Linked DNA regions of Homo sapiens: regions 2, 3 and 4 are each linked to region 1. Evidence: fine-mapped expression QTL. A gene starts in region 1. Each other region holds a variant in brackets. All regions are shown on one strand. Distances are between the middles of the regions. Region 1 holds the start of AJAP1 (adherens junctions associated protein 1). Region 2 holds the start of LINC01777 (long intergenic non-protein coding RNA 1777). Region 3 overlaps LINC01777 (long intergenic non-protein coding RNA 1777). Region 4 overlaps LINC02781 (long intergenic non-protein coding RNA 2781).

The links. PIP is the estimated chance that this variant, and not a neighbour inherited with it, causes the effect. A credible set is the group of variants that fine-mapping cannot tell apart.
Region 2: its variant is the best candidate, but not a certain one, in a credible set for the expression of AJAP1 in whole blood (TOPMed, PIP 0.64).
Region 3: its variant is the best candidate, but not a certain one, in a credible set for the expression of AJAP1 in T cells (TOPMed, PIP 0.59).
Region 4: its variant is the best candidate, but not a certain one, in a credible set for the expression of AJAP1 in esophagus muscle (GTEx, PIP 0.69).

Annotation. Positions count from the first base shown.
Region 1 is chr1:4,650,944-4,658,380 of GRCh38, reverse strand. AJAP1 (adherens junctions associated protein 1) reads right to left here and starts at 3,772. Exons shown (of 6, transcript NM_018836.4): 1 at 2,927-3,772. The coding sequence starts at 2,955. RefSeq lists an enhancer at 5,732-5,781.
Region 2 is chr1:4,411,885-4,419,321 of GRCh38, reverse strand. It overlaps LINC01777 (long intergenic non-protein coding RNA 1777), which reads right to left and starts at 7,271. Exons shown (of 6, transcript NR_027088.1): 1 at 6,690-7,271; 2 at 3,735-3,769; 3 at 2,774-3,010. The variant C/A (reference allele first, on the strand shown) is at 3,471.
Region 3 is chr1:4,419,994-4,427,430 of GRCh38, reverse strand. It overlaps LINC01777 (long intergenic non-protein coding RNA 1777), which reads right to left. Exons shown (of 6, transcript NR_027088.1): 4 at 4,244-4,671; 5 at 3,983-4,083; 6 at 2,747-3,437. Among named protein-coding and RNA genes, the nearest start is that of LINC01777, 12 kb to the right of the region's middle. RefSeq lists enhancers at 1,859-2,360, 3,918-4,418. The variant C/G (reference allele first, on the strand shown) is at 4,881.
Region 4 is chr1:4,974,739-4,982,175 of GRCh38, reverse strand. It overlaps LINC02781 (long intergenic non-protein coding RNA 2781), which reads right to left. Exons shown (of 5, transcript XR_946902.2): 3 at 7,231-7,338; 4 at 5,085-5,214. Among named protein-coding and RNA genes, the nearest start is that of LINC02781, 5.0 kb to the right of the region's middle. The variant T/C (reference allele first, on the strand shown) is at 2,856.

The DNA.
Region 1 (7,437 bases):
CTGCCATGAGGCCCAGACATGGTACAGCGCGCACTGAGAGGGCTTGGGGAACTGTGAATTATGTCAACACACACACCCAGGGCCTCCCAAACAAAAGGGGCCCCAGAACCTTGGAGCGGGAGAACAGATGGGATGGCCGCAGGGACATGGGCTGGGAATGAGCTCGTGGCACTCTGCTAGGGATCACAGTCCTGAGCGCAACCCAGCAAACGTATTAGGTGGACGCTCGGAGCCCCTGAGGAAGCCACAGCATCTGAGGTCTGCAGCCTGGGAAGCAACTCACAACCAGGAAGCCAATTCCAAACTCTGGGCTGCTTGCTGAGTACGCGCCCCCTCCACGGGTGAGCTCTGAGCTGCTTGCTGAATACGCGCCTCCTCCACGGGTGAGCTCTGGCAGGGCTTGTCAAGCCACTGGGTCTCCTTCCGTGGCTCCCTCTCTCTCAGCTGATGGAAAGTATCTTTGGAGCTCTGCTACAACTATTAAATGCCACCGCAAAAGACACAAAAGCTGCTCAATAAGTCTCAATCTGCTTCTCCCTCTTGGGGGGAAAAGAAAAAAAAAAAGCTCCACATACAGCTCAGTTCCAACACAGACGTAAATAACCAAGCCCAGACTTCGTCTCTGGGGCCGGAACTAAGAAAGCCCACCCCACCCCCACCCCCACCCCCTGCCCAGCAAGTTACACTGCACCTCTCCCATGGTGGAGCAAGCCAGGCCTTCTGCCACCCCAGCTGGAGGCTCAGTGTCTACCTGTCCTAACCAGGCTCCAAGCTTGGCAGCAAGACGCCCAGTGCTCACCTAGGGAGCCGCGGAGTGGCTTGCAAGCAAAGGTGAAGGGCTGTCTTGAAAGAAAAAGTGCATTTCCAGACCTTGAACTTGCAACCCTTTGGCTCAGAGTCCCCAGGTGCCCATTGTGATGCAAAACCACCCAGACCCTCTGGGTACAGGCCTCCTTCTCTGGCCAGGAGACAGCAGTAACAAGACAGAGCTCTCCCATCAGGATCCCAAATAGGTGACAGCTCGTCCTTAAAGGCACACTTACAGAAAATCTCCTGTGCTGACATCGAGGGGGGAAAAACGAAAGGTCAAACTTCAAAAGAACCAACAGAACTATTTCCTAAAGCAAAATCCCAAGATCCGGCTTGAGGATGCTTGAGAGGAACTGTTTTAGTAAATTTCAAATCAAAAGAGAGGCTTCTTTCCAAGATATTTGCTCTTCTCTCCCTTTATCAAAATGTACTCATCTTTTAATCTAGCAACTTAGCAATAAAAAAAAATGTCTGTTCAAATAAGTTGCCATCAGGAATCAAGTGGCAGCTCAGGAAGCAGGTCGGAGCTGAAGACCAGCCACTGGCCAGTGTGGGGACCCGTCTGGTCATTCACAAAGCCTTGGAAGGTCTTGCTGAGACCTGGGACAGTCCGGGGCAGAGCAGGGGATGGCAGGCCTCCAGGGCACCTGGATCAGGGTCATTCCTGCAAAGCTGTCCTCGCTCCATTTTGCCAACATCCCACAACGGTCCAAGCCTAAACCTTATCTAGCCCAAGCACACTTATCGATTCACGCCCGACCAATATCCCACACCCAACACAATCGGCTCCATGATTAACCTTTGAAGCCCACAGCAAGATCGGCCACTGAGAGAAGGGATGCTAATAATAACATCTGACAATGTTCACTAGATGTGTTACACAGTATTCACCTCTGGGAGCAGAATCGGCTCATAAATCAAGGGTCGCTAGAAAACACTTGGCGTCCCAGTCCCCTTCCGATTTCTCAAAATCAGGACACGCACTAGATCCTCCCTCCCTTCGCCTCACTCCCCCCGCAGCTTCATCCCTGAGTGGGGGCGGCTCAAGCAGCGGGCTAACAACTACTGGCCTTTTCGTCCCCAACGCGGGAGCGCAGTGCATCCCAGTGGACAAACTCGAGAACCGCACGCTGCTCTCCGCCTCCACCTCTGTCCTCCCCGCTCGCGGTTCCAACCCGGGACCCAAATGCACGAGCTCGGTGAATGCCCCGGCAGGAGGGCGAGGGCTCAGAGGCAGCCTGCCCAGCAAAAACGACAGCTGTGCTCTGGTGGGCCCTGGGCCACCCCAGGCAGAAGCCAGAGAAGCCCGAGAACCCCGGCGGGCTGGCAAAGTTTGCCGAGAAGGGTCTTTCTGGACACCCCCACCACGGGCTCTAGGCTCGAACCCCCTCTTCCATCTGGCCCTGGAGTCCCAGACACAGACAAGCCCCGGGCGCGCCGGCGGGCGTATGTGCGTGTGTGTTTACAGCGGGGTGGCCGCCGGAGCTCCCCAAGAACCCCAGCTCTCCCGCCCCAGCTGCCCGCCAGCTGTGAGCGCCCGTCGGGCCCGGAGGTCACCCGCAAACAGCTGGGTCGGCAGCTGGGAGCCTGGGAGGCCCCTGCTCAGCCCCGGGGCCCCGAGAAAGGAGAAGGGGGAGCGGAGTGGCTGTTTGGCTGTGGTTTCCTCCAACTCCGCCTGCGAAGCTCTCGCTGGGAGCCCGGAGCTTTAGCTTTCCCCGGCAGCCCCGGCCCCCGCGCCCGCCGCGCCCAGCGGCCGGCGCCTCGCCCCGGGCCCCGGGGAGGAGGCGCGCCGGGGCAGCCGGCCAGGACACTGCGCTGCTGGCTCCTAGAGCTGCGGGCGCGCCTGGCCGGCCCCACTTCCCGGGTTGCTGGGGCGGGCGCCGCTGCCCCGACCCCGGACGCGCGGAACCCTGGAGACCCGGCCGCTCCCCGCCAGGGCCGCGGTGCTGCTCCAGGCTCCGGGCGGGCGCCCCTTTCCGGCTACCGGTGCACCCCGTTGCCCGCTTGCGGGAAGCGAAGAGGGGTCCCTTGATTTGCAACATAGAGGAAAGCGCCGCTTCCGCCCAGCCTGGCACCCACGCGCCCACACGCACCCGGCGCCGGCCGGGTCGCTCACCTGAGTCCTAAAAGCTGTTGAATCCACATGGTCACGTTTCGGGGAGCGGGGCCTCAGACCTGGCTCGCCCAGGCCATCTGCGCGGCGCCCGCGCCCGCTCGCTTCCGTCCCGCGGCGCCGGTCTCCGGCTCTCGGTCCGCCGCCTCCCGCCGCCCGCCGGCCGCGGGGCGCACAGCGAGTCAGAGCGCGGCCGCGCGGGGCTCCATGCCGGCCGGCGCGCCGCCGCCGTTGGGGCGCATGGCTCAGGCTGGGCGGCCCGCGGGGGCGCACATCCTCCGGCCGGGGCGCGGGGCTCGCGGCCCCCTCCGCCGGCGGCACAGCGAAGGCGGCAGCGAGGCGGGGCGTGTTCCGGCGCTGTCGCGGCGCAGCAAAGGGCTGGGGAGCCGCGGCTTCGCCCTCCGGGGCGGCGAGGAGGGAGGCCGGCGGCGCTGCCGCTCACGGTGCGTGTCTCCCGGCGCGCGGCTCTTGCCTCCAGCCGGAGCTCCGCGCCGATGGGGCGGCGCTGCTTAGGGTTTGGGGTGACGCGACGCGGACGGACGCGAGTCCCCTCCGCGCTGCCGGGTCGGGGGGCTCTGCCAGAGGCTCCGCCGCCGATCGGCGCCACTCAAGTTGCCCGGGGGCTCCGTCTGAGCGCTCGCTCTGCAGACGGCCGCGGCCCGGAGACTGGCAGGAGGCGGGCACGAGAGGCGCGCGGGGCGAGGGCGCCGTGGAGCGCGGGGCGTGGGGACGCGCGGCGGCGGCGCCGCGCGGAGGAGGCGCGCGGGGATCCCGGGGCCCCGCCGCCCGCGCCCACCGCGCCCGCCGCAGAGCCGCCCGCGCTGCTCAGCCGCCTCCCTCCTCGCGTCTGCCTCTCCGCGCGCTCGCCCCCGCCTCCCGGAGCCGGTCCCAACTCCGCCCGCCCGGCCCGGCTCACGTCACCCGCCTTCCCCGCCCCTCGAACGGGAGCTCGAGCCCCTGGCCTGGCCCCGGCTCCTGCTCGCCGCCCCACCTTGCGGGGGCCGGGGTCGCCGCGGGTGGTGGGGGGCGCTGTGCCCAGCAGGGGCGACAGCGCAGGCGGGGCCTCCTGCAGCCCCCTTCCCCATCCCCGGTCGCGTCCCGGTCCCCACCTTGCGAAAGGCTCGAGAGAGGCCGCAGGCTAGGATTGGACCGCCGGGCGCCGCCGGATGGTGTTGCCAGGGTAACCGGATGGCACGCGAAGCCGTTCGAGGTTCCGACCCGGTTACGGGGGCGCCCAGTGGACCCGGAGAGCTACTTTGGGGAGGGGGCGGCCCCGAAGAAGGACTGGGTGGGGGCGCATGGAGCGGGGGCTGCGCGAAAAGTTTCCTGGGGCGGAGCTGAGCCACGCGGGCCGCGCAGGAGCGTCTGTCCGAGGGTCGCCTACGAGGGACTCCTCTGCTCGGCTGCGCGGGCTTCTGCGTTGATGAAGTCACCGCGTTCCGGGTCGGAGCTTCGGCGCTTCTGCCCCGAACCCAGCGAAGCCCGGTCCTATGCCCCCAATTACCCAACGGTCCCTCATCGCCCAGCGCAGCTGCTGCCTGGCCAGGCCCTTGCTCCGGAGGAGTCACTGGAAAGTTCCAGGGAATCTGGGCCTCCCGGACTCTCCACCGGCGTTTCACTGCTCCCTTCCCATGCCAGGACTCCTCTGTGCCTACCTGGTTAGTCTGTATTTGCAAAAAACAAACAAAAACAACAACAAAAAACAAATGGGGGGCACTTAAAGGAGGACAGACGCTGGGCGGGGACCTTTCACTGAGAGAAGTGACATGGGGCGGAATCCTCTGCAGACCCGCTGACGCCTTGAGAAACCACGGCAAAACCCTGCTTTTAATCCTCCACAGGCTGAGGGCAGTGCAGAATCCGGGCCTTGGAAAGGACACTGGTGCCACCCTTCACTGGGGAAAGGTGCAAGGGGCGGGGGATATACCATGCCGAGCCTTCGCTCTGTGCTCTGTGCAGGTGCTTGACCCAGGCCAGCTCTGGAATCGCCCCAGGCCATGTGAGAGCCGTGGGGGGTGAGAGGGGCGGGAAGCACTTCACAGGTGAGGCCTCCCTGGGAGGGGCAGCCAGTGAGGGGGTGGAAGGGCAGAGCCAGGAGGACCATGGCTTGGGGCTCAGTCTCCCAGGCGAACCATAGCTTGGGGCTTAAGTCCCCCAAGCAGCCCTTTCACCCCCAGGCCTCCAGGATCTTTGCCAACGGTCTTGAGGAGCCAGGCACAGGATTGGACTCTGCCCGGGCAGGAGGATGAAGACAGTGACTTCCCCACCAAGACTCCCGGCAGAGGGCCAGAGGCAGGGAAGTGTGGTGGCAGGAGGGCCAGCCTTGCCGTGGCTGGACCAGGGGCCAGCGCTTGCTAACTCGGGGTCCTGGCCGAGTTGTGTGGCCTCTCCGACCCTCGGTCTCCTCATCTGTAAGATGGGTCCCACAGCCCCTCCCCGGGGAGGTGTTTGCAGGGCTCCATGAGAAGGCCTTACACACACTGTGGCTATGGTGATCTGTGAGCCGGTCAGAGGACCCGAGAGGCAGCAGGGTGACTCAGCAGTTTCCCTGCCGGGCCGCCCCTGGGTCATCGTCCCCTAGAGCCTCTCCCTGAGGGGTGTGAGGGAGCGGATCCCATTAAGAGGCGAAGGAGGCAGGGAGGTCCTGGAACCAGCGGGGCCTATGGCGGCCGGCGGGGAAGGAGGCGCCGGCAGTGCTGCCACCTAGCGGTGTGAGGAGGCGGTGCTGCACCAGGGAGGCCCTTCCTGCAACCGGAGTGGGCCTGGAAGGGGCCGGCTTCGCACACTAGGAGCCAGCAGGGCAGGGAGGGGCTCCGGACCGGACCGTGTCGGCTCCAGGAACCCCTTGGGCAGCCTTGTGGACACCTGCTGACCTCTCTCAGAATGGCTTCTAAGTGCATAGATGAAAAAGCCCAGGATTATTAGGAAACCAATTCTATGCAAATGCATTATCAAAAGAGTAATAAAAACAAATTTCTGATATAGCCGTATATATTATTTATTAATACACTTAGTAAGCAATTGACAGATCCTAAATTACGTTCCTTTTGAAGTCCAGATATGCAGCAATAATATCCTGAGGTAACTGCAGCCATGGCAGTGTGATATGGAAATGCCAGTGCTTTCTATGTTTGACGGTCACAGGCACTGAGCTCTGCCACCGACATTGATAATGAAAGGAAATGCCAAGTCTCAGTTAGGGTTAAATAAAGATGCCAGTTTTCCCCCATACGAGTTGAAAGACCCTTTGAATTCTATCCAAGTACCCTGGGAATCTCTGGACAAAGAAAATAGTAGAAGGAAGTGTTTTCTGACAACCGAGATGGGAACAAGCCCTGCAGAAGTCTCCAGGCGAAGTCAGAGCCTTAAGACTACAGCTGCTGCCCCGGGTGAGTGAGGGCTTCTTCAGTCTATGGGGACGGAGGATGCCCTCTGCCCTCACCCAGGCTTAAAATTAGGATTTGGGACCAGGGTACACTGATTTCCTTTTTCTCTAGGGTAACTCAGGTCTGCCTCTCTCCAAAAAGAGCAATCCACCTATTATTATTATTATTATTATTATTATTATTATTATTGAGATGGAGTCTCACTCTGTCACCTGGGCTGGAGTGCAATGGCATGATCTCAGCTCACTGCAACCTCTGCCTCCCAGGTTCTCCTGTCTCAGCCTCCTGTCTCAGCCTCCCGAGTACCTGGGATTACAGGTGTGCACCACCACGCCCGGCTAATTTTTGTATTTTTAATAGAGACAAGGTTTCACCATGTTGGTCAGGCTGGTCTCGAACTCCTGACCTCAGGTTATCCACCCACCTTGGCCTCCCAAAGTGCTGGGATTGTAGGCCTGAACCACCGCGCCCAGCTTATTATTATTATTTCGATGACAAAATCATTGTCTTTTTTTTTTTTTACAGACTGTAAAACGACAAAACCTTAACTTGCATTTCAGCATTTCTAGAACTGGTTTTCTATACATTGATGGCTCTCATATTTCTAACTGGTTCATTTTTCTTCCCTTGGGGATTGGGAAGCTGTGTGTATGTCACTCCCACCCAACACACACACACACACGCGTGTGCGCGCGCACACACACACACACACGCCTCCCAGCTTCGGCGATACAAAAGGGAACTGTTCAGATGTTCATGCTGTGGAAAGTTCTTCCGGTCACCCTGCTAATTCTGGCCCTTTCTCCCCGCTGGGGGAAGTCCACAGCCTGGAACCCTGGGGAACCCCTGCGGTCTCCTCACCTAGTCCCCTCCCCTATTTTCCCAACAAAGGAGCCAGCAGGCCCCTGCAGGAGGTCCTCTTTGAAGCTCTCTGAGGCCATTTATCTAATGGCCTTCACAGACTTGACTATTTTTAAAACCCATCCAAAGCCAAATTGAGCTGCCATTGTTCATTTTTCTCCCAAGGAGGTAAATGTGTCTTAACCATGACATTTGATTAAGTAGCTAAGTTTGTGATTTTAAATGGAAGGGAAAATGCTGATTAAAATTATTATAAGTTTCTTGAAA
Region 2 (7,437 bases), 240 kb after region 1:
AACCCACTGGATCTTCTTTCTCACCCAGTGGGTGGTAATTACTGTTTCCATTTAGCAGAAGGGGAAATGGAAGTCAGAAGACATTGAGTAACTCAGCCAAGATCTAATAGCCGGTAAATGTCAAGGCCATGTCTTATTGATCTACACTGATAGGCCATCCACCCTGCCACACTGCCTCACTCTGAATGAAGAGGAGATAAAATAGCAGCCAATCTTTTGTTGCGTGATAAGGACTAAAAAAGACTAAAGGCAAGACCAGTCATTTTCAGGTGTTAGAGAAAGGTCTGTGGCAGGGCAGAGCATGAAGAAAGGGAACAATTTTGCCTGAAGGAGGTGATAAGAGGAGCAAGAAGATGACTGTCCTGGTAGAGAACCCAAGGGCTCTCTGTGCTTGAATCCCAACCCGCCATGTTTAAGTGGCTCAACCCACTCCATCCAAATATGTGTGCTCCATCTCACTTGCAGCTACTAAGATTGTTCCTTCTTTAACACCCACCTCGTCCACTTGCCAAGTCCAATAGGCATGAACTCCTGGAGACCTTGTGCATCCTGTATTTCCAGCACATTCATGGTGATCAGCACGTCAGTGTTTGTGGAACCCACCTAAGCATCATTTTCCTTGTTTATTCCATTTGGAGCTGATTGTGTCCAAAAGAAGGAGAGTGGGAGGGAAGGAAGGAGGAGGAGGGACGAGGGAGAGAGGACATAACAGATTCATCATGGCCTTTGGGTTCTGTTGTTGCTGTTTCTTGAAACTGATTAGAGCAAACTCTTGACTTCTAAAGAAAAATATTTGAGAATCTTTCTTCACCTCCCTGTTTTCTCTGTGGCCCAGACTTTTCCTTCTTAAGGTTTTCTGAAAGAATACATACAAGAAACAGCAGGAAATAAAACCCCAAGATATGAAAGTCAGTCTGACTTGCCCTTACCTAACCTTAGTCAGTAATGTCTGAGATGGGGATATTTCAATTATCCAAGCTTCCTCTCTCTTCCAGCGGCAGAGCCCCACTGACTGCGCAGGGAATAATACACATTCTACAATGTCGGCAAGTATGGATGGAGCACTGGGCTCGGCCCAGACATTAGTGCTCAAATGCGTTGATGGTGAGGAGTAATAAAGAAATTGAAGACATATCCCTGCCCTTGAGAAGTAATTTAGTTGGCGGGGGGGAAGGTTCCTAGTGATCCATGAAATGAGTAGAGGACAATTAAAGATTTAGTTGCCAACGTATAATTGTAACATAAACTGCATACAGCAGAATGGTGGAAATAATTAAAAAGAATGGGATTATGATAATTCCAGAGTCATCATGAAACAAGACCAGGCAGCCAAAGTTTCTGTGTGTAGACTGATCCCTTCATGCAGAATATTAACGGCCACAGGCAGGCTGGATGTTGGACCCAGAGATGACCAAGCAAAGGAGATGGATAAAGCCCCTGTCCACATGGGGCTCATGAAGAGAGAATGATGATAAGCCTCATGAATGAAGAATGGGGGGTCCTGAGAGAGAGAATGGAGAGAACCTGCCATGGAGAAGAGAAGGGTTCAGAGCTGCCTCACCCCACGCACACACCTGTCACTGCCCGGCCCCTTTGTGATTATTCCCTAGCAATGATCACAACCTGAAATAACCTCCTTTGTTGACTTGTTTCTTGAAGCCACCAGCCCCCCTCACTAGAATGAAAATTAAGTGCGGTTAGAGAGCTCTTTCTGCACATTCTCCACAGTGCCCCTGCTTCCAACACAGTTTAAAACACATGACCTAAGCTTAAAATTATTTGCTGAGGGAAAGAAAGAATCATGAGATTATTAGGGATGCATTATGTTCATCACATCATCAAATTATATTCGTTATGAAATGCATTATCAATGTCAGGTCTTTTCAATTCAGTAGAGGCCATATACATACACATATTTTTGTAATACAAATTTTTAAAGAGACGTGAACACGGATGACTATTGGTCACCGTAACTGCAGTTTCGCGTCTACCTCTTTTTATTTATTTTTTTAATTTTTTTAACTTGTTTTTGAGACCAAGTCTTGCTCTGACACCCAGGCTAGAGTTCAGTGGCGTGATCTTGGCTCACTGAAACATCTGTCTCCCAGGTTTAAGTGATACTCCAGCCTCAGCCTCCCAAGCAGCTAGGATTACAAGCATACACCACCACATCCAGCTAATTTTTCTATTTTTCATAGAGACGGGTTTTCCCCAAATTGCCCAGGATGGTCTTGAACTCCTGACCTCCTGTGATCCACCCTCCTTGGCCTCCCAAAGTGCTGGGATTACAGGTACCGTTTTTGTTTAATCAATGTTATCACCTCAGTGCAGTCTAACGCTGCTCAATTGTTCACGCCCTCTTTATAGGATAGGGTCTGTGCCACATTAAACATGAAATTAAAGCAACCGAATTTTTAGAAAGAGAAAACTTGGCCACTCCTTGCTTTGATATAAATCGTGTTGTGTGTTGGGGCCCCTGCCATCCCCCTCGGTGCACCAATGGATGCTCCACCGTGGCTGAGCAGATTCCGCGTGGATGCGGGATGTCAGTGTGACTGCACAGTTCTCCCATTTCCTTTTAAAATCGTGGGAAGAAGGCACTGAAACAAAACATCTTTTATTGCCTGGGCTCCAAATGCACCACAGGGAATGTTTACCAAGGGGCTTTTAACACAAATATTTACAGAGATTTTCATGCAGTTGAGGTCCTAGACTATTTGGATTTGAGTAGATGGAGCAAATTGATCTATAAACTACACGCTTTAGTAATTACCTGCAATATCCCAGGCTTTCTGAATTCCATCTCTCTTTCCCTGGCATGATGTGATATCCTCAACAATTGAATTGCTTCTTGGCAATGTGTTGGCTGTTAGTTGTGAAAAGTCAGTACGATTCCAAATGTGTGGGTCAGTGGCTTTATTAAGACTCATGACCTCATGCAGGAGGCCCAGGCAGACTTGGGCAGCTGCAAGCAGAACAGCTACATAGGATGCTTCTAATGTGGAGACACCTGCGAGAGAATTTTAGTTATTTAAGAAAATGCTCGCTCTCTCTCTTTCACACACACACACACACACGCATATCCACTCAGACTGAGCTGGGTCATGACACACCAACACCACTAATTTCATCTCTAAGTTTTTCAGTCTGTCATGTCAGGCAGCAGCTAATAAGTGCACTTGAAGATGGGAATTCATTGATCATCTTTTCCCAAATCAGTGGAGTCTGTGTCTGCCATAACTTCATTTAACATCTCATTAGGAAAGATGGCATCACCAGCCCACCCAAGAGCAGCCTCACTATCTCCCTTCATGGCTTTTGCCCCCCACACAGCTGTGCTGGGGACCCTGTTTCCATCAGGCCTCTGATGGGTCCTGCCTTCTTCTCCTGCAGGCTCCACTCCCCCCACTGGATAAGGAGCCTGGTTGTAGACTCCTGGTGGCCTTGGGGTTACAGGAACAGACTGTGCC[C/A]TGGGTCTTCCTTGCACTGGAAAGCTCCCTCTCTATAACTTCAGAGGGAGAAGACTCTTAGTACCCTAAAATACTAAAATACATGAGATTGGAGGAACCGACTCTGCTTTGTTCATTCCTACTCAGAGACATCTCCAGTGAGCCAAGCCCTGGGGGGATGTGGGGCTGGACTGCTAGGAAACTTTGCAACTGAGTTCAAACTTGGAACTGTCCTCTCTTCTCCAACACAGCAAAGGTCAATCGAATTTATACTTAGGTACTTACCAATGCTCTAAACGAAAAGAAGGCGCTCCGTGTACCTGCAATAGAGGCAATTGTTAGGAGGAGGCAGAGCTGTGGACATGCAGGGCTCCAGGGCAAGAGTCTATTGGAAGTGGCAGGGATCTGGCTCCTGAAAATGACAGGGACCCAGGCACCCCACATGGCAGGAGACCCCAGCCAGATTCATGTATGAAACCTGGAGCGAGTGAAAGGAGGCCGGGGAGAGCCGGTCCCAATGGAAGCAGAGCAGTCACGTGGTCCAGACTTGGGCTAAGCTGCCAATTGCCCTGTGACTGCACCTGTGCTCTCCCCAGGATCTTGACAGGCAGGAGCAGGGGCCTCCAATACAATGTGGTTCTGACCAGGATTCTCAGGGGCAGAGAAAAAGCACCTGGGAAACCACCAAATGGGGTTGGGTGGAGGGCAGAAGGGAGAGAGAGACCCACTCAATAGAAGGTTCTGAACATCATGAAGAAGATTTACACACTAAAGCGACAATTATCAGTTAAGACATTCATCACCAGTGAAATGCAAACAACAGGAAACCTCGAGATGTCTATAGAATACCCTATGGTCTCAAAGATCTAAAGGTCTCAAAGATGTAAAGAAAGAAATATATGAAAAATAAGGAAAGATTATGATTGGATATGAATTAAAAACAGATCACTTTTCAAAGCTCAGTTCAAGATTCTGGAAGTAAAACATACAGTCATTATTTATTTATTTATATATTTATTTATTTATTGTTTTGACACAGGGTCTCACTCTGTCATCCAGGTGGCTGGAGTGCAGGGGTGTGATCACAGTTCACTACAGCCTCAACCTCCCAGGCTCAGGTGATGCTCCCACCTCAGCCTCCCCAGTAACTGGGACTACAGGTGTGTGCCACTGCAACCAGCTAATTTTTGTATTTTTTGTAGAGACGGGATTTTTCCATGTTTCCCAGGTTTGTCTCAAACTCCTGGATTCAAGTGATCCACACATCTCGACCTCCCAAAGTGCTGGGATTGCAGGCATGAGCCACTGCACCCAGGCTGGAACTTTTTAAAATTACAAATGGATATGAACCTGGTCAGAGAAAGATTTGTGAACTGGAAGATAGTGTTGTGAAGCTCCTTCTAAATGCAGCAGACGGAGAAAAAATCTTATCTTATGAGAGATAAGTTAAGAGATATGGAAAAGAAATTGAGATTCTGCCACACAGGAAGGAGAAAACAAGGGGAATGGCAAATAAACAATATTTGAAGTAAGCATGGCTAGAAATTTTCTAGATTCAATGAAAAAGCAGGAAATTTCAGCTAATGAAACACTTGGAGTGCTGAGCAGGATAAATATATACATGAATGTATATATATATAAGTATACATGAATTATGATGAAACATTGTTGCAGTGCAGAAAGATGAAATAAAATATTTAGAGGTACCAAAAAGAAAAGAGATATCATGACAAAAGAAAGACCATGAGACTGGCAACAAATGTCTCCTCAGTGACAGTAGATGCTAGAAGACAATGAATAAATAGCCTCAGACTGTCAAGAAAACTAACTGCAAATGCCATATTTGATGCACCCTGTGAAACCATTGTTCAAGAGTGAGGGCAAAAGAGGCCAAGATATTTTTAAAATATGGACTAGAAGAAAACATGATTTACCACCCTCAGATGGTTGCAGAGAAAGCTACTGAGGGATATATTCCAACAAGAAGAAAAGTGAACCAAAGGGGAAGGAGTGGTCTGCTAAAGATAATACTGAGCAAAAAAATAATAATAAAAGTATTTTGCTGAATGCGTTTAACCACTAATTGGAAATTTGTATTTAAGAGTATTGAATTAAAATGTAAAACAAGAATGTACGGTGGGGAAAACTGGAAAAGGAGGGAAACGTCAAATAACTTTAGACTTTGTTAGAAAAATAGACAGTTATTATGTTAACAACTTAAGTTTACCAGCTAAAATATGTGGAGAGATATACTATAATAACTTCCAAATTGGTGGGAAAAAAGATATAAGAAAAGCTGTATCAAAAACAACAAGTCAAGACATAGAGAAAATAGAAGCTAGTATCTATAAAAAACAAAAATAGACAGAAATAAATATACCAATACTTACAATAAATGTGACAATATTACCTATCACGGACAGAGACTAATTAGATAACTTAAAAATCCTTCTATATGCCATTTAAAAGAGTAATGCTAAAAGCAGACAAACACTTATTACAAATATGTATAGAAAGATGTACTAAAACTACATATAACATAATTCACAGATTAAAGAAAAATCATAGTAACAATAACAAAATATTTAGAATTGATTGAAAGAAATCCCACTTTATGTCAGAACTCATAAGACATAGCTAAAGCAATTCTTTAAGTAAATTTATAGCTTTTAATGCATTTAAAAATGTTATAAAATAAATGAGCTAATCATTCAATTCGAGAACCTACTAAAATAAGAGAGAGTAAGCCTATAAGAAGGAGAAGAAAATCAACAGTAGATAAGAGCAGAAATTAAGAAAACAGAAAAGGCAAACAAAATATGGCTGATTGATAAAACCAAAGATATTTCTTTGGAAACTAATGAAAGAAAAATAGTCAACTGAGTGGACAGATCATGGTGAAAAAAGCAGGCACAAGGCATCACTAGGAGCATAAAAAGAGATGCAAAAGGAAGGTTAAAAATCATAGGACTATCATGAACAACTTTTTGACAATAAATTTGAACACCTAGAAGAAATGGTTTTTAGATAAAATTTATAAAAATTATTCAGACACTAGATTATGGTGATTTTTCAAGGAGAGTTTCACAACAGCCTCAAGAAACAGAAAATTGTCTTCTTATACAAATTGTTCCAGAATAGATGAAGCAAATAAAATACCTGACTCATTTTCTGATGCCAGTATAATTTGATATCAGAACTGAGCAAGGACATGATGAGAAATGAAAATTATAGGCCTACCTCCCAAAGAATATAGACGCAGAAATTCTAAATAAAATATCCGAAAGTCCAATCTCACAATGTATTCACAAAAAGCACATCAAGGTCAAGTGGGTTTATTTGTCTTGGGAAGTGAGAGGCAGTTGAGGTATTGCCTCGGACTGTCACTCAAATGGATCTGCCTTCACATGGAGACAGGTGGCCAGGGTCAGAAGGAGTTTCCCACTTCCACTCTGCAGAATCCAACTAGTCAGACATGAGCAGCGTAGGAGAGAGCTCCCCTCGTACCCCACACCACACACACCAGGAATGTCAGGCCACATTCCTGATATTCATCAGGTGATGGTCAGGCCGTTAACAGTCTCTCTAAAATAATAATTGGTCACTGCCAGTGCCAGAGGAAGGCAGTCTCCCAATAAACAGAAACACTTGAAACTGGTGATCAGCAGCTTCCGAATGGGATCTCAGGAGTTGGGCCCGTGGGCTCAAGCATGCCCAGTAAGAGGCATAATGGCAGAGTTTAACCGGCGCATGACCTCCTAAGTACATTGCGCTGGTTAAGAGAAAAATGCCTCAAGCAAGCATGCGCACAACTCCAGTAAACACACTGCGCATGCTCCTCTCCCGAGCGCTGGCAGAGCACTGCGCATGTGCACAGCCCACTCCAAGGGAAGAGTCAGGGAAGAAAGGACGCAAGACCCTGGACACATGCTGACGTACAAAACCCCAAGTCAAAACGTCAGACCACGCACTTGATCTTTCAAGTCAC
Region 3 (7,437 bases), 230 kb after region 1:
TATCACATACATGTTTATACACACATATCACATAAGTATACTATATATCATCTGCACATTTAGGCACACACCATATATATATGCATGGATATCATATACATGTTTACACACTTATGTACATATGCACTCTATCTCTGTTGCATCTTGTACACACAATCTGTTGCACACTCTTGCACACCACCTCAAACCCACTCATCACACAATTTTACTCTCACACTCATACACGCACTCATACACACTCACACTGTCACACTGACACTCACACACATTCTAACACTCACACACACTCACACACCAACATGCTTCACATACTCCCCATCTTGTATACACTCACACAGACACACCCACACTTAGCCTCTGCAGTCTTTCACCACTCTGTCTCACACACATAAATGCCCACACACACATTCTTAGTCACTCACTCCTCCTTGTATTCACACATACACACACACACAATGTCACACACGCTCACATACACACACAGTTGCATGCACACAGACACAGAGTCTCTCACAGTCAAACAGGCAATGCCAAGCAGTGTGTAGATTGAAGAGGGGACATTTGATCATGATGAGTGGCCCATGCTTTGGAAAGGAGAGTGACAGGTTGGTCTGGGTTTGAATTTGAGGGCCTGAGAAAGGTTCAGTGCCTGGCTGAACTTCAGCCTGGTGAGCGATGACATCAGCCTCACAGGGTCGGAGGCCACTCAAGTCGACATCTCATTTTTCAGGAGGCCCAGAGATGGAGCCCATGCTCCCGTCCTGGGGGCAGGTGAGGAGAGGCCCATGACCAGCGTGCAGAGCAGCCGCATTTCTGGACCTCAGGAATATCTGAGTTGTTGCCACAGAAACTGAAAGAGGTTTCCTAAGAAATAAGCTTTTCTAAAGAAGCGTGTTTACATGGTTATAACAAACATGTTTAGAGCATCGTATGTCTGCGGCCATGGCTTTGGCAAAGTCGTTTCATTCCGCAAACAACCGTGCAGTGAGCTGCCTTGCTGTGCACCTGCCCTGCTCCAGACCCTGGACAGAGCAGCCAGGGCCTCCCCATGAAACCTTCTAGCATGTGTGAGATCCTCCATAAGTAGGAAGTCCATGCAGGAGATCTCAGCAGTGGCTAATCTGCAGGTGAGAACACGGAACCAGGTGGGGAGAGCTCAAGGAGGGAGCTCAGAGCAGGCCTGTTCATAAATGACATCCTGACTCAAACCTCACAACACAACGGAGAGGGCAAGGAAGCTTCCAGGGGGACGGTATGCCGGGGGGAGGGGACAGCAAGGGCAAGAGCTCAGAGGCGGGGCATGGGAGGAGGCACAGCACGGGAAGGGGCGGGGCATGGGAGGAGGCACAGCATGGAAGGGGCGGGGCATGGGAGGAGGCCCAGCACGGGAAGGGGTGGGGCTGTGGGAAGAGGCACAGCAGGGAAGTGGGTGGGGCCGTGGGAGGAGGCACAGGCGGAAAGGGGGCGGGGCTGTAGCCTAGGATGAAGCCTTGGATGCCATTTTTAGGGGCACCTGAAAGCTGCCAGAAGCTTAGGTGCGAGCTGAGAATTGAAAATGCACCTCACCTTTTGAAAACATGACCAGATCGCTGCAGAGAGAAGGAATTTCTAGAGTGGAATGTGCGGGAAGTGGGGGACTTCCCAGAGAGGAGTCATCACAAGGGGCCGGAGAGAGGCAACGGGCCCTTTGCACAGGCTCCTGGGCAGAACACGAGCAGGAAACGGGGACTGAGGCAAAGGAAGAACCTTCCCAGCTCCGGAGGACACTTTCCTGGGAGATGAAGTCGTGATGGAGTGGATGTGAGTCCCATCAGCCCCACTGCTGATGTCTGGGTGCCACGGAACCATCTTCCATGGCAACGCTGCTGCTATTTCACTCGCTGCCGTCGGGCCCAGGACGATCCCTCCTTGAGCCGGTGAGGCTTTTACACAGTCAGCCTGAAGCCAAGCAGCCTGTTTTGTTGACTTTTTGCCCAATCATGTCCAGCACGTGGAAACCATACCCCACGCAGAGATCAAACCTCCACACACAGAGCGAGGAAAGGAAGCAGGCTTTGCTAAAAGGACCCCATCATTCTGGACTGACGCCTTCATTAAGTCCTTTGTAATTCATCCTTATAGACATAAAATTATCGTCCGAAGGAAGAATGTTAATAAAACTGACATTTCTCCGTCAGTCATCTTAATTCACAACATAACACTTTCCGGAGCCAGTTAGGTGTGCCTGATGACTACATGCGGCTAAACATTGTTGTTCACTGGAAACGCACATTTCGAAGTCCCTGCCATCATTGATTACACTGAGAGCAGCCTCTTTGGTCTGGAGAAGCATGTTAATGTTACTGTTTTTGTGCCAGGCCGGCGGGGGAGCACACCCTCAGCCTGCGCCACCCTCAGGGACCCATGATGTCCCGAGAATCCCAAGAGCATGTGAGCCTCCTAGCTTGTGACAGCTGTGTGGAAGGGCCACGCCATGCACGTGGAGAGAAACCTGCCTCAGAAGGATGCCCAGGTGGCCCAGTTGTGGATGCAGCCACTGAAGCCTCCCTCTGGGGTCCCCCTCCAACAGCCTCAGTCCTCCCGATCACCTGCGCTGACCCCCCTCCCCACATCCCATGAGGAAGCTCAGCTCTTGGAACAAAGGACCTGGGACTCAGCCTTCTGATGTCGCAGGACTTTTCCTTAGCTCAGCTAATGACGGGGTCCTTGTCACATGGCCATGAAAGATTAGGCTCACAGACAATTTGAAGACTGAGAATAATAGGATTTATTGGGCAAAAAGGAAAATAAAGGGGGAATGGGGACTCAGCAGAGCAAGAGTCTCCCCAGTATAGGCTTCCCGCCTCACAAAATAAATTCCAGGTTCCAACCAGGAAGAGGAGTGGCCAGGCTCCTCCCTGCTGCAAACACCGTGAACTTCTGTGGCTCCACTCCAGTGTACATGCCCAGCGAGCAGGCCGGCTGGAGTTTCTCCGAGAACCCCTTGCCACCTGGCTGTCTCACTGAGAGTGTGTTGGATTCACTGGAGAAAAAGAGAGGGAGGCAGAGTGATGCCAGGGATGCAGAGGGACCAGAGGTCAGGTTCCTAGGGCTGCCAGGACAGGGGACCACAGACGGGGAGCCTTCACCAACAGAAATGGGTTCTTTCATAGTTCTTGAGGTCGGACGTCAAAGATCAAGGCGTGGGCAGGGCTGGCTCCCTTGAGGCTCCGTGGGAGGCTCTGTCCCAGGCCTCTCCAGCTCCTGGTGGTTTTTGGCAATTCCTGATGTTGCTCAGCTTGCAGATGCATCACCTGATCTCTGCCTTCATTGTCACTTGGCATTTTCCCTCCGAGTGCATGTCCACTTCTGTGCCAGGTTTCCTCTTTGTATAAGATGTTCAATGAACATTACCTTGTCTCTTGTTAAAACAGTGAGGAAGACTTTATTCAAGACCGCTGCAATGGAGGAGGGAGACTGAGATCAATGCCAAATGCAATGAAGACACCTGGGATTTGTAGTCTGGGGGCCCATGAGGAGCTGGTGGATGGAACCACCAAGAGGAGACCCAGGGACAGGGACTCTCACTGTGGACTCAGCAGGGCTCCTGCTGCAACTGGGCTGCAACTGGGGGTGGCCAAGACAGACAAAAGCTTGGTCAATGAGAAAGACCTTGTCAGGAACACACTTGTGACCTTGAGCATTGACCATTGACATTCGATTTGTCCTTTAGCATTGACCTTACACATTTCATATGACCTTTGACATGGACCTTTCACATCTGATTTGTCCTTTGGCATTGACCTTACACACTTGATTTATCCTTTGACATTGACCTTTGACATTTCTTATTGGAGTAAGGCCTACCTCAGTGACCTCTTGTCAACCTGATGATCTGCAAAGACCCGATTTCCAATAAGGTCACATTCTCAGATACTAGCGGTCAGGATTTTGACATCTTTTAAGGGGACATAACTCAACCCATATAAAAGGGTATATTTACCTTACAAAATCCAGCTAGGAGCATTGTCAGCAGGTCAGCCTCCCTAGAAACAGAGCCTGAGAGGTCTTCCGACCTGGGGAGAGGTTACTGTCAGGATAAACCTATAAAGGAGGGAAGGAAGGAACCTGGAGGTGGAGGAGACCTTCATCCCACCTTGTCAAGCCAGGATGACTCAGGCATTGGCCTGATCTCAAAGGAGAGCCCAGAGCCCAAACTGCTGTACAGGGTGCTCCACCACTGCCGCAAGGGGACCCTTTGTACCTGGATCAGTCAGTCCTGGAGAGGGGTCAGCCTCCCCATCAGGCGGCTTCTGGAGTGGAGAGCAATTCTCCTGGGGGTTGAGGGAGAGCTGAGAGACCTCAGGAGTCACAACACACTGGGGGCCGGTCTCAGGCCTGGCGAGGGAGATGGAGCAGGGCACGGCTGAGCAGGGCACGGCGGGGTGGGGCAGCCCAAGCATGTGGCAGCAGAAATGATGCTCCAGGTGCTCACGTGGGCCAGCCTTGCTGCTGCACTGGGAGCTTCTGGCTCCTGTCCTCTCCAACCCCATATATCTCGCCGAGAACTAATGCCCTTTAATGAAATCAAGCGACAGTGACAAAAGCCCTAATTTTATGTCTTCTTCATTCTCCAGCTGCAGCTGCAGTGCCCTTAGGACATTTCCGTTGACCAAGTGCAATTTATCTGAACTGAAAAGGAGCAGAAAGAGGCAGCTGCAACTCGGAGCTCCCTCTGTGGGCAGAGTGAGAACCTCGGTTTTCTCAGTATTTTGTTTGTCTTGTGTGTCCCCATGGGACGTCATCACTGCAGTTCAGGGGTGGTGACCAAGTTTGTTTCCCTGGTGGGCAATTTCCCATAATCTAACCCCAGCAGCAATTCCAAATCACTTTAAATCGAA[C/G]GAAATAAATGTCTCTTTTGTTTCCGTCTTCTGAGGTTGGGGAGGAGAAACTTTGTTGCAAAAGAACTTTAAAAAAATACCCTTAAGGGGTTGCATTATTCAAAATGTCACAAAATAACCTTTGTGTTGGACACTTTAAATAAAAGAATGCTCTGTGAGTAGGTTGGGGAGGATGGAGGGAAGGTGAAGTTATTTTATTAATTACTTAAAAAAAACTTTAAAAAAAAATGCCCCCAAACCACAAGGCAGAATGACCCTAAATCTTTGGAGGACAAAATCTTGGGCTAACTTAAAAAAATTCTTCACATACTTGCGCTGCTCGGTTTCCATGGGAACCTAAAGAGGAACTCTATGATGCCTGCAGAACATCTATTTTTACATTAACCCTTCGTATCACAAACAAAGGAAAAATAGACAAGAGAGGGAGAGATGGGGAGGGGCAGCTTAACTATCTTCACTTGTGCTTTAAAGACCTCACAAGTGTAGTTGGGCTGGAGGACAAGACCGCCAACATCATCTGAAAACGGAAAGCAGACTGGTATATTTCTTTCTTTTAGAATGACACTCAGGAAAAGTAATTAACATGAATGTTGTTAAGTCTGCTATTTGCACCACGAGGACAATTCCAACTCAGGCAGCAGCATTTTCATCCTGGGATCTGAGAGCCTCGGAATGGGGGATTTGATCCTAGAGGCAGTGAGAAATGTGTGTATGCAGGTCATTATTCTGGGTTTGCAGCTGGGCTCACGTCCAGCCTTATGCCACTGGGTCTGGGTTTACAGCAGTTCTGAGCCCCCTGGGAGGGGCCTGGAAACTGTCAGTGGGTGAACACAGTTGCCTTTTAGGAAATAATGTTACCCACCACCTACATTGAGGATAACCTGTTTCAGAGGCTCCTAGTAAATGTAAATTTAGGCCTCTTTCCTCTCTGAGAAAGGAAAAGGCATAACTTTTGAGAAGGAACAAAGGCTTCAGCAACGGTTGGTGGAATGTGATACAGCTTCACTTATGTTTTTAAACCATCCCAGTGTTGGGGGGCAGGGAGAAACACCACCAACACCACAACAAAAGCAGCAACCTTGGGGAGTAAATACGAGTGGGTTTTCCCAGGTCACATTTTCCCCTAAAATAAACCTATTTTTAAAATAATACGTGAATCCAACGGCAACAGGAAGCTGATGAAGCTAAATGTGAGCACCTGTTTTTTCCTACACAAGAAATGAAAATAAACTCACTGTAATGAAAATCAAGTGCAGAAAAATGATTGCCTAATTAATTGAATGCTTCACTGATTAGTTGTGCTTCTTAAATGTCTCTGATGCCTTTTCTATTGATTGACAGTGCAGAAAAAAAAAACAGACAGAAGGAGGCAGCCTGGCCAACCAATCTGGCCTCGAAAGGGTCAGAGGTGGAATGTCAAGGGCAGTTGGTCAACTGCTTCACTCCGATGAACAGGTCCCCCAGCACTTTGGGGACAAGGTGGCCTCTGCTGCCAGCTATGTCCCTGCCTTTCTCTCATCCTTGGAAGAGGAAGTGGCTGGATGAGGGCTGGCAGGGTGGGCTCAGGGTGATTTTCTGAAACATTGCTAAATTGCCTGGGATAATAGAAGACATGAGCTATGTACCCATCCTGTTCAGCCCTCATGACAATTGATAATCTCCCCCCATTTGATTAACATTGTATTCTCAGCTAGACTGTAAGCTCCATGAGGGCAGGGACCAATTATGTCTGGTCCCCAGCCAACATTTCATATTGATTACTTATCCATGGCTGATACAAAGTAAGCACTCAATACACATTGGCTGAATGAAATAAATGTTTGAAAAGAAGAGCATGATGAGTATTGTGGTTTTTTTCCTATCAGTCCTATAATAAATTACTGCAAACTTGTAGTGAAAATAGCCCACGTTTATTAGCTCATTGTTCTGGAGATCAAAGTCTGAAATGGGTCTTTCTGGGATGAAATCAAGGTGGCAGTGAAAGGAGTTAGCCAGCTTGCTTTAGGCAGACATTAAGGGAAGGGTCCCCAGAGAACCTCTGACCTGTCCCACAGGTGCTTATACCAGACGTTTTGTGCAGATAAAGGAACTTGCACAGTGGGGCACACAGTGGACTAAGGGCCCGCATGCACAAGGGGTTGATGGGGTGGAGCCACTAGGAATTCGTGCCTTATACATATATATATATATATATATATACATATATATATATATATATATACATATATATATATATACATATATATATATACACACATATATATATATATACACACACACACACACACACACACACACACACACACACACACACACACCCTGGTATTCAGCTGCGAAGGGGGCAACTGAGAACCTGCCTTCAGGAACCCTCTCTTTGCTGTGAGCTTTCTTTTCGCTTAATAAAGTCTATTCCACTCAGTCTTTGAGTGTCTGTGTGCCTAATTCTTCCTGGTTGTGAGACAAGAACCCAGACCTAGCTAAGCAAAGGAGTAAAACATCCTGCATCAGCAGCAGGGCTGCATTCCTCTGGAGACAAAAGGGAGGAATCTACCTCTTT
Region 4 (7,437 bases), 320 kb before region 1:
GGGGGCAGGTCTTTCCCCAGCTGTTCTCATGATAGGCAGTAAGCCTCAAGAGATCTGATGGTTTTATAAAGGGCAGTTCCCATGCACACACTCTCTTGCCTGCCGCCATGTTAGATGTGCCTTTGCTTCTCTTTTGCCTTCCGCTGGGATTGTGAGGCCTCCCCAGACATGTGGAACTGTGAGTCCATTAAACCCCTTTCCTTTATAAATAACCCAGTCTCAGGTATGTCTTTATTAGTGGCACGAGAACAGACTAATACACATATCTATCCATGCATGAAGGGTATGTGACTGCTTGTGTGGTGCTGATGTGTGATGGCACACGTGTGTAAGTGTGTGTGTGGGGGGTGTTCTGTCTGTAGTGTATTGTTAGGAAGTAGAAATAAGAAGCAGCAAAGTGTAAGTCAGAGATTTCTTTGGGTACATATCCACATGAATGAGTAAGGAATCAAAAGCAGGCAACTTGGCTGTGCCTATAGTCAATGTATTAGATGACTATATTAAGCTTAGATTATAGACACCATTTAAACCATCATTGGGTAAATTTACCCACTATAGGAAATTGTTGGTCCTAAACTATAGATCAGGCAGAGTAAACACTCCACGCTACTTACACACATGGTTTAATGTTGAACTTTTTGTTCTTCTACAAAAACTGAGACAAACTGAAATGACTTCTTAGGTTTGCTGAGAACAGCAACAATAAAGAAACCTCTGCAAAATTTGTCCAGTGGCATTTTCTTGTATAGCTATAGTCATTGGTGCAATTTCGGGTCTTGGGGTCTCACTCTTGGGCCATGTTCATATTTGGTGGATGAACCAGCAGGTGCTCGCCCCATCCGAGCTGTCTACTCACTTGCCCGAGTCCAAGCAAAAGTCCCAGGGGTTCTGGGAGGTGCTGTGATTGCTCTGGTGGAGTATGGTTGTTTCTGATAGCACTGTTCTTGCAAAGCTCTTCACTTCAGGATGCAATTGATTTTAAAGGCAAATGGCTGAGGCGTGGGAGAAAGAGCATAGGATTTGAAATGAGAAGAAGTTTATGCAAAGCTCCTTTCTGCCACTTCCTGGCTGCACATTCGAGGATGGAAGTCTCACTTTGTTGTTTCACATCAATGAGGGTTCCTTGGATGAAAGCCTTAGAAACTGACCAGCTGATTAAAGCTCTTCTGCAAAGACAGGTCATTGGAATCACAGGGGATAGAGGAATTGAAGTGGAAGTCTTAGAATAAACAGGAAATGGGAAAAGGAGGAAGAACAAACCCAGGGAACAGGAGGAAGAGCATGTAGTATTTTCACGGCGCCTCTTCCTGGGGTAATTCGTGGCTTTTTTTGTCGTTTTGTTTTGTTTTGTCTTATGCCAGTCAAAGATGAGAATTTCAGGAGGGAGAGACTGTTGGTCTTAGCTGAGCCCCCCATCCCTGCCTTACCCAAGGGAAACTGAGCCTCTTGAGTGACAGCTTGGCAAGATGTGTATATTAAGGGAGTAGCATTCTCCCCAAGGAAAACCCAGGTGCTGGTACCAAAAAGAGGGATTGGCATTCACTGCATCCACCCAGCTGCCCCTCCTCAGGGAGCTGGCACTGTCTTCTGGGTCAGTCCAATCTGTGGTCAGCTCCCAGGACTGACCTTCCTTGACCCATCAGCATCGTGTGTCCTGGCTCATCTTATCTGGCTCACTGGCTACTTCTTTCAATCCTAGGATAAAGGGGATCTATTCAGGTTCAGCCACACCTCCCCACCTTCCTGCCACCCCGAGATGGGCCCTCTAGACCATCCAAATGGGTCCCGCGCAGCTTCCCACTCCGCTCCCACCTCTGCCTCCTCCTAGTTTAATTCCAATACGGAGAGTAGATTGGGTGCCTCCACTGCTCCAAACCCTACATTTGATTCCTGAACAGTATAGAATAAAAACTCAAGGACTCACAATGGTCCATAGGACCCCACCCCACTCTTCTGACCTCCCTCCTATCTGCCTCCACCTATGCCTATGGTCTCTTTTTTCCCATTCCTGCCCCAGCCTTTCTGCCAAGGAGCCTCGATCTGCGGTGTTCTTCCCCCGATGGCCCTGCCTGCTTGGCACCCCTTGCCTTCCGCACCCTGCCCAGGGTCATGTTCCCCTTGAGGCCTTTCCTGAGTCCCACCACTTTGTTTCTTTCTACATTCACGACCACTGTCTAGTGCATTTTATTATTGTACCCATGTACTTTGCTGTCACCTCTCTCCCCATTTAGAAGTTACCTCCCTCTGGGCGTGAGGGAGCTTTGCATCGTTTTGTCTGTTTCATTCCCTGCTCTGTCCCCAAAGCCTAGAATAATAACCAGCACATGGCTAAAGGCCAGGAAACACCTATTGAACTAATGAACAAACTTGTTGAGGAAATTAATAATAGATCACAGACTAACTTAGCACAGTCTCAGGCCTAGGGTAAGCACTCAATATACGTTGGTTTATTCATCAGCTTACTAATTTAGTAAATAGAAGGAAGAGGCAGTTGGTGATTTTCATCTGCTTTACTTTATCCAAATAAATTCTGAGAGGAAATGTTTTTATGATGGACTAGTACTAAAATCTCCCCACATGTTTCATGTGGGGTCAGCCCATTCTGCCCAGTGGAGATGGGACAGCAAGATCCAGTTTGAAGCATTTGCTATCAATGGCATTGAAGTATCACTGAAGGATCTCCAGAGCCCAGCAGCCAAGAAGGAATGCAAAGAGCCCACAAACAGAGGTTACTCCTCAAAGCCACTGCCCCTTTTGAAGACAAAAAGTGGGGGATGTCACAGTGCTACAGCCGAAGACCAGGACAGCCTGAGAGAAGCACAGAGTGGTTAGTAACAAGAGGAGAGCCAGGACTT[T/C]GCTTATAAGCTTGCGCTACACCCCATCAGGATTTCCCCGGGAGCTTTTTCCTGTGCTGGGGAATAACATGAACGTGCCCATCAGTGCAAAGGGTGCAGTGAGGGCAGGAAGTTACCGTCACCTCATTAGGTTAACGAGACACAAACCTCCAGCCCCTGTGCAGTGAGATACTGGTGACCGCCCTCTGACGTCTCTCCATCCTGCCTCCCCAGGCTGTTCGGATGGGTGGGGTTCAGATTCATGCTGTTTAGGGCAGGGCAAGCACCCTGCAAGCACAGAAGGCTCTGTTTCTCTGCTACTAGAGAAACCCACACCCAGTATCTTTGCACACTGCTGTCTCTTGTTTGGGTGCCGCCAAGTGGAGGCCACGGAGACTCAGTAGCAAGATCACGTGCTCCCGGCATCTGGTCAAGCCATCAACAATATGGTGCTGTTTAACACGAGGTCGCTGCGGTGCCCCATCAACACAGTGGGACCTCGTTAAATGTCATCTTATTTTAGAACTGGAGAGGATGTAGGCACCACGGAGTTCAAGGCCCTCATTCAGAAGCAGGACATCTGAGGCCCAACTCGCCCCAGTGGCCCTGCCTGGGGCACAGAGTGTCTCACCCAGCTTGCTATGTACTGTTCCTTGGCTGACCCTGATGGTGACTGTAACTTCCTGCCCTCACTGCACCCTTTGCACTGATGGGCACATTTGTATTATTCCCCAGCACAGGAAAAAGCTCCCGGGGAAGTCTTGATGGGGTGCATTGCAAGCTTATATGCAAAGTCCTGGCTCTCCTCCTGTTATTAACCACTCCCTGCTTCTCCCAGGACCTCTTGGTCTTCAGCTGTGGTGCTGTGACATTCCCCGCTTTTTGTCTTCAAAAGGGGCAGTGGCTTTGAAGAGTAACCTCTGTTTGTGGGCTTTTTGCATGAAACCTAACCCCACTGGCACCCAGAAAAGCAGCAGAAATACTGACCCAGGGAGTCAGTTTGTGCACCTCCATTCCTGCCTCTGTTGAATGGTAGTAGCCTTGGTCTCACAGGGGCACTTTCAGTAGAAAAGAGAAAGGGCATCTTTTCACCCACAGGCATTGACGAGGCCCCTGTCCTTCTAAACGTATCATGTGGAGATGATTCTGGGGCCAAAACCACTGGTAGGAATCCCAACTTCACTGCTTTCTTGTGCTGGTCAGATGATTTAACCTCCGGAATAACAAGACCCACTTTTGTTGAGCCCACTGTAGGTCCTCCCAAGTCCTCACTGCTTTCTTTCTGTGTCCTGACCGAGTAGCCCAGATTGCCTTGACTGCTCTGTGACCCGGCCAGCTGCAGGCTTTCTCCTACAGGCTTGAACCCAAGCTGAACTCTGGAACATTCCCAGGCACTGATAAAGTCGTTCAGGTTGTTGCTTGCAGCAGTCAGTGAGAGACCACGTTGCTAAACATGTAGAAACCAGTCCGACCTTGAGCCAAGTTCCCTAAACCCTCAAACGCCAGACCGTGACCTCATCATGGACATACGTGGGCAAAACATCCCTTTCCTTGCTTTCTGTCACGGGGCTTCAGCCGCTGTATGTAAATTCCCCCGGTAAATGCTTTACAGCAAGGACCCCAGCAATTGTTTCTTCTCCCTCTGGAATTCCAGCCAGCCCCATCTCAGAACAGTTTGGGGCTGTCTCTTGCAGGAACTCCCCTGCTGTCAATTTTGGAGTGACTCTCGCCATGGGTTTGGCCAGACAGAGCACCCTTGCAAGGCATGGGTTACCTCACTGAACGCTCACAGCAACCCCAGGGCATGGATAATCCCAGCAGGGTATCCCCATTTTACAGGCAAAGGAGAGGAGGCTCATCAGAAAGGTCTCACAGCCAGGAACTTGTGGAAGCAGCTGCCTCCCTGGTCTGCCTGCTCTGCCCACTGGGTTCTAAAGCCTTGCAGATTCATGAGGACTCAGTAACATGGGGTAGGAAGAGTGTGCACTGCCCAGGGAGTGCTGAAGGTGCAAGGAGATAATACACTTGGGATTCACTGGAGCCCCACACCCCACAGCTCAGAACAAGGCCGCTGGAATTGCCGATTCCTGTGGTGTGGGAGGGGGCCCTGGCTCCAGTCGGACACTGCCCCCAGGTTTAGTTAGTCTGTGTCTAAGAGAAGAAGAGGTCAATACATTGGGAAGGAAATGTCGGGAGGGCCCCACTCCAGGCCCCACCCCTTGGGCCTTTCATCTCCGATTCCATCCTCACCTCCGTCTATCTCTCGTGCCGCCCCACGTGCGTCTTCCTCCTGGGTGGAAACGCGGCAGCTGGGGTGACTTGCAGAGGCTCTCGCTTGCGTTCCTGGGCTCCTCCTGGGATAGGGAGAAGGGTCTTCAGGCTGGAAATTAGAATAAGGAGACGTTCTCCCTTGAATTTAATTGCATCTCTGTCAGTAATTCAGCAACCATCATTTGCACACACATTTCTGAAAGGCTTTTCAAGGAATTTCAAACCCGCCATTTAAAATTCTCATTATGGTAGGAAATGGTCCCTTTGGGGCCCAACAGTTTTCTCTTTGGTCTCACGGTCCCTGGAGGTACGGATTTCAATTTAGAGTTTTCCACGTGGAAACTGAAGGAGCTAAGGCTCGCACATGACTCCCCCACCCCCTACCCCCGCCCTGAGCAAACACACTCGTTTCCAAGTCAGATGAGCAGCGAGAGAAAACATTCATCAAACTTCAGTAGTGTAATGGGTCTTCGCTGCTGGAATTAAATGCAACAGGTAGATAGGATTATGTTTAATGCGTATTTACTGGTCGATCTCTCAATTTGCTGAAGAACGTTAGTAACAATTGGTAACAAACGTTCCGTTGATTTATATGAGTGCATACAAACCCGGAAGAGCCCCACATCTCCCCCGAACCATGCCTGCATCTCTTGGGAGACTCTCACTTTCAAATAATCTTGTTAGATATTGTTAGAAACTGATAGATTTGCATACCGCGAATGTTAAAATTCAGAAAATACTCAACCGCCAATTACAGCCACCACGTCTTTCCCTAATTAATCAGTCAGGAAAGAGCAGCTCCAGGTGCTTTTCCTGAGCTGAGCATCCGCCAAAGCCTTTGTCTTTATTAATCTTGATGACCCACCAGTCAGCATAGGCAGGTCCCTCCGAGATGACGGAAAAGCGGGAACACCTCGGGGACTCACACCTGTGCCAAGTGATGAATCCTCCCGACACCTGATTAGATGATTCCCAGTTCTGTCTACTTCTGGACATGATAAACATCAGAGACTGCTCAGGGACAAAGCTAGCACCCCTGAGGCTCTGGATGGTGCAATTCCTAATCCAGTGAATTTCGTTCTATGCCTCCTTCAGGAGGTGCTCCTCATGAGCACCTGTCCCATGCCCTGCCCTGCAGACTAAGGGACAGTGGAAAGCTGTGGAGCAGAGCCCCCTCTGTGAATTGAATGAGCGTCCCTCAATGAACAAGCCTGCTCATGTGGAACACAGGGACAGTGGTGCCTGTCAAGCTCAGAATGGGTGGGGCAAACTTGGTGAGAGGGAAACCTAGAAGAAAGAGCAAACAAATTGTCCCGTACCCAAGCGCTCTAAGAAATGAAGCTGGTAAAACAGCACAGCTCAGAAGGGGCAAAGAGAGTGTTTGTAGACTTCAGTGCTCTGGAGAACGTTGAACATTCTCATGTCTAAAAGCGGGGTGAAATTTATGCTCAAGGCCACGAGGGACAGGTGTTCCCAGCACAGACTGCTATATATTCATGAAGCTGATTTCCACATGCGCCCAGGAGGGCTCCAGGACTCCAGCCCTGGCTCACAGCTGTCCACTGCCTCCCTAGGTCAGCCACCAGCAAGAGCAAGGCCTTGTAACTAAAGGGCCCTCTGGGCCTCCTCCCAGTCTACAAGCCTGGTGCATCGCTCCAAGCCCCTACTTTGAGGTGCCTCTTTTGACTTCCTTTTGCAGGTAGAGACTCTCTCTAGGGGCAGTTCCACATTCCAGCCAGGTCTGATGCTTGGAACTCTGGTCCAGGCTTAATTTGTCTGTTTTTGGAAGAGGAGTGTTGAGCAGATGGACTAATTGGTCACTGCTTCCCAGAGACCCGGATAATAAATGAGCTGTCCCCCTCAGCTAAGCATTCGGCTGGCAGGCCCGGCAACCCATTCTCAGCTCCCACCAGCACCACAATGAGTGATTCCAGCCCCGGAGTGCGCCGGTTTGGAGAGTTTCAAGTTCATTAAGAGTTTAAATAAATCCATTCATTTCGGTTTACCTTAAAGAGTTTTCTGTAATCACCTTCATTACATGTTTAAATAGGGTTAGGGAGGGTAGTAATTAGAAAAAAATTTGCTTCAGCAGGGGGCACTTTGCAGCTCTACACAAATATGTTACCTTGTCACAGTCCCTATGATCTGGAACCAACTCAGGCCCAAGCCTCAGCCCCTGTGTAAATCACAGCCCACGAGGCGCAGCTCCAGGGAGCTCCGGACGGAAGGGCGTCTGTAGAAAGAGAGCGTTTCTGCTTTGGCTTCCCGGGTCTTTTTTTTTTTTTTTTTTTTTTTTGAGACGGAGTCTTGCTCTGTCACCCAGGCTGGAGTG